2 separate regions of the Homo sapiens genome follow, and region 2 is linked to region 1. Evidence: fine-mapped expression QTL. Tissue or cell type: whole blood. Region 1 holds a variant in brackets; the other region holds the start of a gene. All regions are shown on one strand. Distances are from middle to middle.

Region 1 (5,070 bases):
CCTCTTTTGTGCCCCACATGGTTAGAGTTGAGAGTGGACCTGCTTTGAAGGCAGGGGTGTCCTGTGCAGTAGTGACCCTGGGTGGCACTGGAGAGCCTGGCAGGGCCTGTGCAGCACTTGTAAACCACTGGTCCCCTCCCTTGCTGCCTGTCCCAACCTCCTGCTGGGTTTCCTCGAGGGTCCCGGGGCTCCTGCATGATCCCCCACGGTGTTCTCCCTCTTGCAGCCGTGGAGCAACTGCGTGTGCACGTCAGACGGCACAAGGGGGTGAGGAAGTTTGAGTGCACCGAGTGTGGCTACAAGTTTACCCGACAGGTAGGCCAGGGCCTGGGCCCCTTCCCCTACCCTAGGATCCCCCAAAGTTCTGAGCTCACCCTCCCCGCCAGGCCCACCTGCGGAGGCACATGGAGATCCACGACCGGGTAGAGAACTACAACCCGCGGCAGCGCAAGCTCCGCAACCTGATCATCGAGGACGAGAAGATGGTGGTGGTGGCGCTGCAGCCGCCTGCAGAGCTGGAGGTGGGCTCGGCGGAGGTCATTGTGGAGTCCCTGGCCCAGGGCGGCCTGGCCTCCCAGCTCCCCGGCCAGAGACTGTGTGCAGAGGAGAGCTTCACCGGCCCAGGTGTCCTGGAGCCCTCCCTCATCATCACAGCTGCTGTCCCCGAGGACTGTGACACATAGCCCATTCTGGCCACCAGAGCCCACTTGGCCCCACCCCTCAATAAACCGTGTGGCTTTGGACTCTCGTATTTCAGCCTGACAGTCTGTTCCCGTGTCCTGGAGTTGGGGAAGTGCTGCCTTCCCACCCACGCCTTCAGGAGAGAGTAGTGCCCTGCCCGGTCCTATGTGGGCCTCAGCTCAGCTGGCAGCTTCCCCTCCTGTCAGGAAACCTCAGCTGAGCGAGGCTTGGATGGGGTTCCTTTGGGGGCCAAACCTCTGGCCTTGGCTGCTCTCCACATCTGTATTCTGTTCCTCATTACTGCAGGATTTTAGAGTGGGGAACGCTGGCCAGTTAGAGCACCAGTATTCCTATTTTAGAGCTGAGGTGATACCGGCTTCTGGAGATAGAATTCATTACTAAGCTTCTGGAGTTCAGTAGAGTGATCAGGGCCCACGGGGCTGGCCTTGTTGGGCAGAATCAAGGATTGGGCCCAGTTAGTGTAGCTGAGCACGCCTGGGGGTCTGAGGAGGGTGGGGCCCTTCCTTCAAGCAGCCTGGTCTGTGTCCAGGAGGCTTTGGTCCCCACGTTCTATAGCTGTGGGGTACTGTGTGGCAAGGAGCAAATGCACGTGGGCCTTAGAGCAGATTGCTGTTGTTTAAATTTCTTCCCAACTAAGTTGGCCCTGGGTAAGTTACTGACAGCTTCATTTCTCTACTGAAAATACAAAATTGCTGGGTGTGGTGGTGCATCAGGAGGCTGAGGCACGAGAATCCCTTGAACCCAGGAGGCGAAGGATGTAGGGAGCCGAGATTGCACCACTGCATTCCAACCTAGGCAACAGAATGAGACCTTGTCTTTAAAAAACAACAACAAAAAAAAGAGGCCCACTGTGGTCTCAACACTGCTCTCCTTCCCAGCCGAGACACTGGCCTCTCCCTCAGGTTCAGATGGACTCTGCAGATAGGAAAAACATCTTGAGCCAGACGGCTTGTGTGGATTCACAGCCTGGTTTGGGACTGTATTTGAAGGGCTCCACCTCCCCAGGTCCAAGGGCCATCTCATCGCAGATGGGAGTCTCATCACCACCTGTATGTACCGCAATCTCAAGAAGGGCTGTGGGAGCCGGGCCCGGGCAGAGGACCAACAGGCAAAGACCAGCTTTGGAGCAGGCAGGTTTCCTGGGCATCATCTGTTCCACAGCATTTACTTCTCAGGCCTCTCTCTTTAAATGGAGACAAGGTCTTCCCGTATTGCTCAGGGTGGTCTTGAACCCCTGGGCTCAAGTGATCCTCCCTCTTCAGCCTCCCAAAGCACTGGGATTGCAGGTGTGAGCCACCACACCCAGCCTCTGGGGCATGTCTTTTCCAACGCTTCATCACTTGCTACAATCTGAGATGAGAAAGGGCCTGGAAGGCTGTTTAAGACCCTCAGTGTGAACCCTGGGCTCCATGCTGCCTGTTCCCCTGACATCTGTCCTCAGCCCAAGAGTCCCAGAAGACAGTAGCAGGAGGACAAAGGCAATGACTCCAAATGGATAGGAAATACTTTTATTGCAAAAAGTACTGAAGGTACCCTAAAACCTTAAGCAGGATTCTGGACATGGAAGCCTACAGAATAGACAAAAATAAATATGTCAACCTGCCCGACCCTCTGGGGTGAACTGGATGTGGACACTGGAGGGAGGGCGTCCTTTATTACATACGCGTCTCTGAAGTCATATAAATATAGAATACCTTATAGTAGATCAGCATTAAATACCAGTCACTGTGTTTATATAACTTAATTTGTGCTGTAGACAAAGTTCTGTACATGTAACATGTGGCCATGCCCAGGCATCCCA[G/A]CATCTATCCTGAAGTCAGTGTAAAGACATCCTTAAGTGGTGGAGACATGACAGCCCAGAACCCACAGCAGAGGGAAACTGGGGAGAGGAGGGGGCCTGACCCTGGATCCCCCAGCTGGTGTCCACAGGCTAGAGGGACCCATTGCTGCAGAGGCTGGTGCCTGGTTTTCCCCATACTTGGTCTTCTAAACCCAAAGACAGGGTCCTGATGGTGGAGACCTGGGTAGGTCCGGAGGACAGACACAGGAGAGGGCACAATCCCAAGCGCAGCTCTCCTGCACTGGCTCGCACCACAGCCCTCATCTGAGTGGCCGACACAAGCCTGGAGTACGGCAGCTGCCAACCACAGCAAAGCCGCAAAAAAGACTGAGAAAACAGGAACCCAGAGTTCCACAGGGGCAAGGCCTCGCAGACCAGCCAAGCCCGAGATGCCCTGTGCTGGCAGTCATCACAGTCTGGACAGCATGTCCTTCCGTGGGTGCCCAGCTCAGTGCCTGGAACGGTCAGGGATTGAGGGCGTAGCCAACCTTGTATGGCCAAACCCAGCCCTTACGCCCCTGCTGACAAGGGAGACAAGCTGCCCCGCTGAACTCCAACAACCTCTGGGTGGGCTCAGCAGCCCCTAGGAAGTTAAGCGAGAGCTACAGGGCAGGGGGGCTCCCTGAGGGAGTTTGCACAGACCAGGAGGGGCCAAGGGGTAGCCCCAAGGGAGCAGAGGAAGGAGAAGGGCAGGAAAAGGTCCAGGGCACAGGGCAAGCAACAGTGCCAGAGGGTGCCTGGTCACAGGAAGCCCAGCTGCATGTTCCATGCTGCCCACAGGACTCCCAGCCAGGCCCCAGCAGGCCTGGACAGTGCTGGGCCCCCATCCTCGGCCTTCCCAGCACAGCAGGTGCTGGAAGATGACCATGACCCAAGCGAGAAGAGCCGCCATGAACTGTGGTCATACCAGCCAGGGCGTTCTAGGACAAGACTTCCTAACCCGACAGCAATGACATCCACAGTGTATGGACTGGGCTCTTGAGGAGCACGAGGGAGAGGCCAGGCAGCCCTGTCAGGGGTCCTGGGACATATTAAGGCAACCAGCCACGCCATCTGGCCAGCACAAGGGACTTAAGTGCAATCTGCTAAGTGACAGTGCTAAGACTGTCTTCCTGCTGAGAACATCTCTACGAGTTAGTTCACTAGAAAAGGCAATAAACATTTGCTTTAACCTTCTTTAACCAGGAAAATGCAGTCTAAATGCCCTCTTCTCTAAAAAGGAGGCAAGGACAAAAACTCAAGCCAAGGCTACTTTGGGTACTTTGAGGGGAAACTGACCATTTCCAAGAGAAACCCAGGGGCTGCCAAGCTGCGGCATTCACCCTCCTGCAGAAAGCTTTGGCAATGGGACTTCTTAGACTGGACAAATCAAACAAAGCTGACCCTGTAGAGCTCCTTCTTCTTCCCACTTCTTCTAAGGTCAAACTGCAAGCATTTTCAACTTTGGAACCAACCACCAAAGCCACCTCCTGCCCAGGACTTCCTTTAGAAGCAGTGGGACTCCTCACGCGCAGGCCCAGCAAGGGCTTGGGCACCCGCAGCTGTCTGCTTGGCTGGGTGTCAATGATCACCTCCCAGGGCCTCCCGGGAAGGAGAGGGTGAGAGGTGAGGACGCAAGAGCCAGTCAGGGGGTAGGAGCAGGGGGCTATGGCTGAGGAGGCCCAGCATCTGATAGGACCACATCCTCTTCACCCTCCAAGCCCACACCCCTGCTCATGTCCCACTGTTCTGGGTGCAGCCTCTGGAGGGCAGCCCTCTGAGGTGTTTTGATGTAAGCCCCTGGCAGGGGCCAGGAGCTAGGGAGGCAGGCTCCCCACACCTCTGGACATGGAATTTGGGACCCCACTTCAGCCCGTCTGCCTGGTCCGCTGCTCCAGGTTCAGGCCATCCTCAGCCTCATGGGAGGACCCCTTCTCCCTTCACGCGTCCCTCCCAAGTCATCGTCCTCTCCCAAGGTGGGAACAAGTAGGTGCAGATGACAACGGCAGGAGGGGTGTGCGCCGCGTGGGTGAGCTGTGATCCGCGGGGTGGGGGTGACCTCCAAGACCCAGAAACATGTGCTGGCAGGAAAGTGGCTCTTCCTCAACTGCAGGGAGGGCGTTCCCGACGGCCTCTGATTCAGGCTCTCAAGGTACAGAAACCTTCCAGGTAATGGATCCTGGGCTGGCTTCGCCACCCAAGAGCCTGTGCTCCTCCTGTGAGCCCAACGTGTCCTTGTGCACAAAGGAGTGGGGCACTGCCCCGCAGAGGTGCCAGTTACCTGCACCGAGGCCCGTGCCGGGCCAGACTGGGGCTAGTGCAGCTCATCGGGGTCCCGCGGCGGCCGGGGTCGGCCTGGGTCCATGTCATCGCTGCCACTGTCCAACTCGAAGCCACGCCCACCCGAGAAGGTCTGGGGCATGAACTGGCGGAAGATGCTGACACTGCCATGCCAGAAGGTGGGTTCTGGGAGCCGCCCCACCACGCTCCACGCGCGAGTCTCTGGGTCATAGGCCTCTACCACGTCCGAGAGTTCAAATGTATTGTCG
Region 2 (5,128 bases), 34 kb after region 1:
TGGGCTCAGGCCAGCTGTTTGCGAGTGTGGGAACTCATAGGTTCTGTCTTTGTCTCTTCCTTTCACCTCATTCTGGTAGCAGCATAAAGGTTAGGCAATCACTGGGACCCGCATGGTGTTCCTCCAAAGAATAGGGTAAAGGAGAGCTGGGAGGGAGCCCTCTCCGTTGGGTGACTCTTGTGTGCCCTTTAGACAGGCTGGCCTGCCGGTTCCACAGGGTACAGTTAGGACTTGAGTCTTTCTTTTTCTGTTTTGAGTTGGTGAGTGAGTGATAGGGTAACATGGGCCTTCAGGATGACCCCTTGGAACTGTGCCGAGTTCCTTAAATCTCAGCTGGGATCCTGGACCTGGGAGGCCCCTGTGAGGGCCAGCTCTGGAAAAACCTGGGAGTTGATGCCGGAGGCTGTGGAAGAACTCTGCTCGAGGGCAGGGTGCCCTGGAACACTGGTAGTTCTGGGGCTGGGAGGGAGAGGGGCTCCGGCTTTCTCTGAAATGAACACTGCTCTTCAGCAGTTCAAGTACTTGTTCTCAAAACATTTTCTAATTGATTGGTAGGTTTTCATAAGCATTGTTTCTTTAAGGCATGGAAAGGGAAGAATGCTCAAGCAAGTCATGTTTGTTTTCAGTGGGATGGGCCCGCGTTCTCACTGCTGGGGGCTTCCCCTTCATGTGGCACCTTTGTGCCAGGCCACCAGGCAGACTCTTCCCACCTTCTCCCACTGAAGCACCAAGGGGCTTGAACCGTAATTTGGCTAATCAGAGGCATTTTTTTTGTCCTAGTATCTTTCACACTTGTCCAACCGTCTTATTTTTTTAAAAGTTCTGTTGCTTGTATTAACACGAAACTAGAGAGAAATAGTTTCTGAAGCCAGTTTATTGTGAAGATCCCCAAGGGGGAGGTTCGGTAGAGAAAAATAGTAAGCTGGTTTAGAAACTGACGAGGGCAAACAGCCAGGACGCATTGGAGAGGAATTTGCCAAAGATCTACCCTGAGATAACGCCTGTCCAGTGTCTTCACCACGTGAATAACCAGCGCTCCAAAGTGTTTTTCTGCTTTGAAAAAAAAAAATTCCACAAGCTTTTAAAGGTGCATTTAAGAATCCATGTGACTTTAGAATGGAACTGCCGGCCCTGGCAACTGTCACGTGTGCTAGAAGGTTCGATGCCTCTGGAATGCATGTGATACTCATCTCCATTTTGTTTCCTTGATTGCATTTTTGTTCTTTTAGCAGATCTGTCCCTGTGGGTGGTGTCTAAGAAGTCGGACACCTTGGTTTTTGTGTTAGATTGAGCTGGGCAGCTGCAATCAGCTTCTTTATATGCAAATTAGGCACGACCCATCTGTGGTTCCTGGTTGGTGGCTAATGAAGTGAGGGGAGGGAGGGATGTCACCCCAAAAGTAGGCCCTCCCATTGGCTTTGGCCAGGCCAGACACTTCACATCGTTTACATGGTTCTGTGTAATTTTAAAGTTTATGTGTATAAAGCGAAGCTGTTTCTGTGAAACTGTATATTTTGTAAATAAATATATTGCTACTTTGAGGTTCATGATTCAAGGTTCAGGCGATTGCGTTCTGTGCTGAAGGACAATTGTGTTTCTTTTCTCCTTGCTACCTCCCCAAAGCATGATTACATCAAGTCTCTGGGAAGGCAGCGTCTCAGTGTGCACTTAGCAGGATGGAAAATGCCCACGGTGTTAAGGTACCTTGCTGGTGAATTCCTTAGAAACAAACCACAGGACGAGTAGATGTGAATGGTTTTTGCAGTTTCTTCATCAGATTGAGGATTAGCTCAAGCCCCAGTGAGTGGTTAGCCTACTTTTGATTTTTTTTTTGTTTTTGAGACTTGAGTTTCGTTCTTGTCACCTAGGCTGTGAAGTGCTGTGATGAGATTTTGGCTCATTGTAACTTCCACCTCCCGGGTTCAAGAGATTCTCCTGCTTCAGCCTTCCGAGTAGCTGGAATTACAGGTGCCCGCCACCATGTGCGGCTAATTTTTGTATTTTTAGTAGAGATGGGGTTTCACCATGTCGGTCAGGCTGGCCTTGAACTCCTGATCTCAGGTGATCCGCCTGCCTCGGCCTCCCAAAGTGCTGGGATTACAGGCGTGAGCCACTGCGCCTGGCCGATTTTTTTTTTTTTCTTCTTACAAGATGACGCCTTCCCTATAGGCTGCTTTGAGAAAGCTGCAGCCTCGGAGTTTCTGCAAGGCCTGAACTGGAATCTCCCTCCCCTTCAGTTGCCCTTTTTGCCTCTTCACGTTTGGGGGTTCCCTGTGACCAAACTTAAGGGCAGTGAGCTGTCTGGCCTCTGAACTGACACCACCAGTGGCCAACTAGTACCACCTCCAGTGACGTCAGAGGAGTCCAGACCTATTCACAATTCAAAGCCCTAAAAACACTGAGGGGTTGGCCGTTGGTTTCCAGTTGTCCAAGCCTGTGAGTGGCTATGCGTCCTGGTTGGGTGCTCAAAGCAAGGAGGTGAAAGGCGACCAGCATTGGCGAATGGGGTAAGACTTGCACAGGCCCAAGGCTAGGAGTTGGGGTTTCGGGCCTGAATTGGGGCCCGGAGCACCCCTTTACGTGGCGCCCCGGGTCCCGTCCGACCCTGGGGAGACGCGGGTGGCTGGGATGGCAGGATGAGCGCGCCCTGGAGGCGAGCCAGGCCCGTCACCACCTCCCAGCGGCCCCGCCCCTCCCCGCAGGTCCCTCCCCTCTCCGCAGGCCCCGCCGCCGCCGCCATCTTTGTTGGGGGCAGCCAGGCCTGGCTCGAGATGCCGAAGTCGTGCGCGGCCCGGCAGTGCTGCAACCGCTACAGCAGCCGCAGGAAGCAGCTCACCTTCCACCGGTAAGAGGCGGGGACCCGGGGGCGCGGGAGGCCCAGACCCGGGGCCCGCGGACCGACTCCGAGGCCTTGGCGCGCCGGGCGGGAGGCCCAAAGGCGTGCGGCCGCTGGGCCCGGGGACAGGCCGAGGTCCTGGGCCCAGAGGGGCTGGCGCCGCCGCGCCCGCCGCGGGGATGCGGGGAGTGGCGGACGGAGGGGCAGCGGCGCACCTGGCGGGGCCAGGGCCGGGACGTGCAGGGAGCGGAGCAGGTGTTTGCTGAACAGACTAGCGGGCCGCGGCCGGGGTTTGCTGTGTCCCTGGTCGCTGCAGCCCCCGCCGCGCGCGGTCCTGAAGGGAGCCCGGCACCTGGGCAGTGCAGTGGAGGAGTGGAACCCCCAGGGGCGTCCTGGCAGTGGGAAGGGACTCTGCAGGGTCGCGGGAGGACGCTGGAGACTTTGGAGTCTGCTCCAGCACTCGCCCGGCCCGGCCCGGCCCGGCCCAGGAGCAATCGTCATTAGTCACAGTTGCGCTTTCTCCAAGGTCCAGTCACGGCACCATTTCTCTACCCACTTTTGGGCACATTCCGAAGGGGGGCTTGTGCTCATCGTTCCCATTCCCTCTGCTCCCATTGTTCTGTTTTGTGATAAATGCTTTGCTTGAAGTATACGTAATGTACATGCAGAAAAATGCACGAATCATAAGTATACAGCCCAGCGAGTTTTCCCCAAGTGAACGTCACTGAACTGAAACGTTACCAGCTGGGCGCGGTGGCTCAAGCCTGTCATCCCAGCACTTTGGGAGGCCGAGGCGGGAGGATCGCTTGAGCCTGGGAGTTCGAGACCTGCCTGGGCAACAGAAGGAGACCCTACCTCTACAAATAATTTAAAAAAATTAGCCAGGCAAGGTGGTGTGCCCCTGTAGTCCCAGCTGCTCGGGAGACTGAAGTAGGAGGATCGCTTGAACCCAGCTTCGAGGCTGCAGTGAGCTATAATCTTGCCACTGCACTCCAGCCTGGGTGACAGAGCGATACCTCATCTCAAAATAAGAAATAAAACATCACTACCCCCGAGAAGAACCCCTACCTGGACCCCCTCCCAGGCCCTCCTCCTCTCTCCTGCCCAAAGGGAACCCTATCCTGCCCGCTATCAGAGTGGATTGCAGTTCATTCGCTTTCGTTGCCACATAATATTCCATTGAATGCAAGTGCCAGAATTTACTGATTTGTTCTACAATTGAAGGGCATTTGGGTGGCCCCATTTTTTGGATGACAAATACATGGTTCTGGAGGCTGGGCGTGGTGGCTCACGCCTGTAATCCCAGCACTTTGGGAGGCCGAGCTGGGTGGATCACCTGAGGTCAGGAGTTGGAGACCAGCCTGACCAACATGGTGAAACCCCGTCTCTACTTCTCTACTACAAATACAAAAATTACCCGGGCGTGGTAGCGCGCACCTGAAATCCCAGCTACTCAGGAGGCTAAGGCAGGAGAATCACTTGACCCTGGGAGGCAGAGCTTGCAGTGAACCGAGATCGCACCACTACACTCCATCTTGGGCAACAGAGCGAGACTCCGTCTCAAAAAACAAAACAAAACAAACATTGTTTTGGCCAGTTTTGGTGGGACTTGTGTTGCAGTGCATCTATCTGTTTTGCCTCTGTCAGGTATGTACTTGGGGATGGAGTTGCTGCGCCTTCTCTCTTGAAGTCGTTTCCTCCACTCCCACGAGAGCTCTGTCACATCACTAGTGAGCCTTGTGACACTGATCGATTGCATAGCATTTCACACAACTGACCCCTGAGCCTGGGTCACTTTTCCCGCATGGCGTCTGGTACACTTCTTGGCCACAGGTGTCTCTTCTCAGTCTCCTTTGCTGGATCCTCCTTATTTCCAGCACTAAGTGTTGGAGCCCTGGGGTGTGGGCCATGGCCCAGGGGTGGCTTCTAGCCACACTTGCTCCCCAGGGGCCCATCTCACCCAGGCTTATCGGTTCCGCAGGGTTGGCCGCCACACTGACATCTCCAGATGCGTGTGGCCGCCTGTCACCCCAGCACATGGAGAGCCTAAAAAGCACCTCAAATTTAACTCCTGACATAAAAAACAAACTTCTTTTTTTGGAGACAGACTCTCACTCTGTTGCCCAGGTGGAGTGCAGTGGCGCAGTCTCGGCTCACTGCAGCCTCTGCCTCCCTGGTTCAGGTGATTCTTGTGCCTCAGCCTCCCAAGTAGCTGGGATCACAGGAGTGCGCCACCACGCTGGGCTAATTTTTGCATCTTTAGTAGAGATGGGGTTTCACCATGTTGGCCAG

Which allele goes with the higher level. Alleles are on the strand shown, and positions count from the first base shown. SD is a standard deviation of normalised expression in the study named.
For the expression in whole blood of the gene that starts at base 2,421 in region 2, allele A in region 1 goes with a higher level than allele G (small effect, 0.20 SD a copy in GTEx).

The links. PIP is the estimated chance that this variant, and not a neighbour inherited with it, causes the effect.
Region 2: it holds the start of THAP3, and the variant in region 1 is fine-mapped to the expression of THAP3 in whole blood (GTEx, PIP 0.96).

Annotation. Positions count from the first base shown.
Region 1 is chr1:6,588,530-6,593,599 of GRCh38, forward strand. It overlaps ZBTB48 (zinc finger and BTB domain containing 48), which reads left to right. Exons shown (of 11, transcript NM_005341.4): 10 at 227-315; 11 at 387-751. The coding sequence ends at 683. KLHL21 (kelch like family member 21) reads right to left here. Exons shown (of 4, transcript NM_014851.4): 4 at 2,195-5,070. The coding sequence ends at 4,836. Among named protein-coding and RNA genes, the nearest start is that of ZBTB48, 11 kb to the left of the region's middle. The variant G/A (reference allele first, on the strand shown) is at 2,504.
Region 2 is chr1:6,622,448-6,627,575 of GRCh38, forward strand. It overlaps THAP3 (THAP domain containing 3), which reads left to right and starts at 2,421. Exons shown (of 6, transcript NM_001195753.2): 1 at 2,421-2,507; 2 at 2,703-2,845. The coding sequence starts at 2,772. PHF13 (PHD finger protein 13) reads left to right here. Exons shown (of 4, transcript NM_153812.3): 4 at 1-1,583. RefSeq lists a silencer at 2,812-3,221.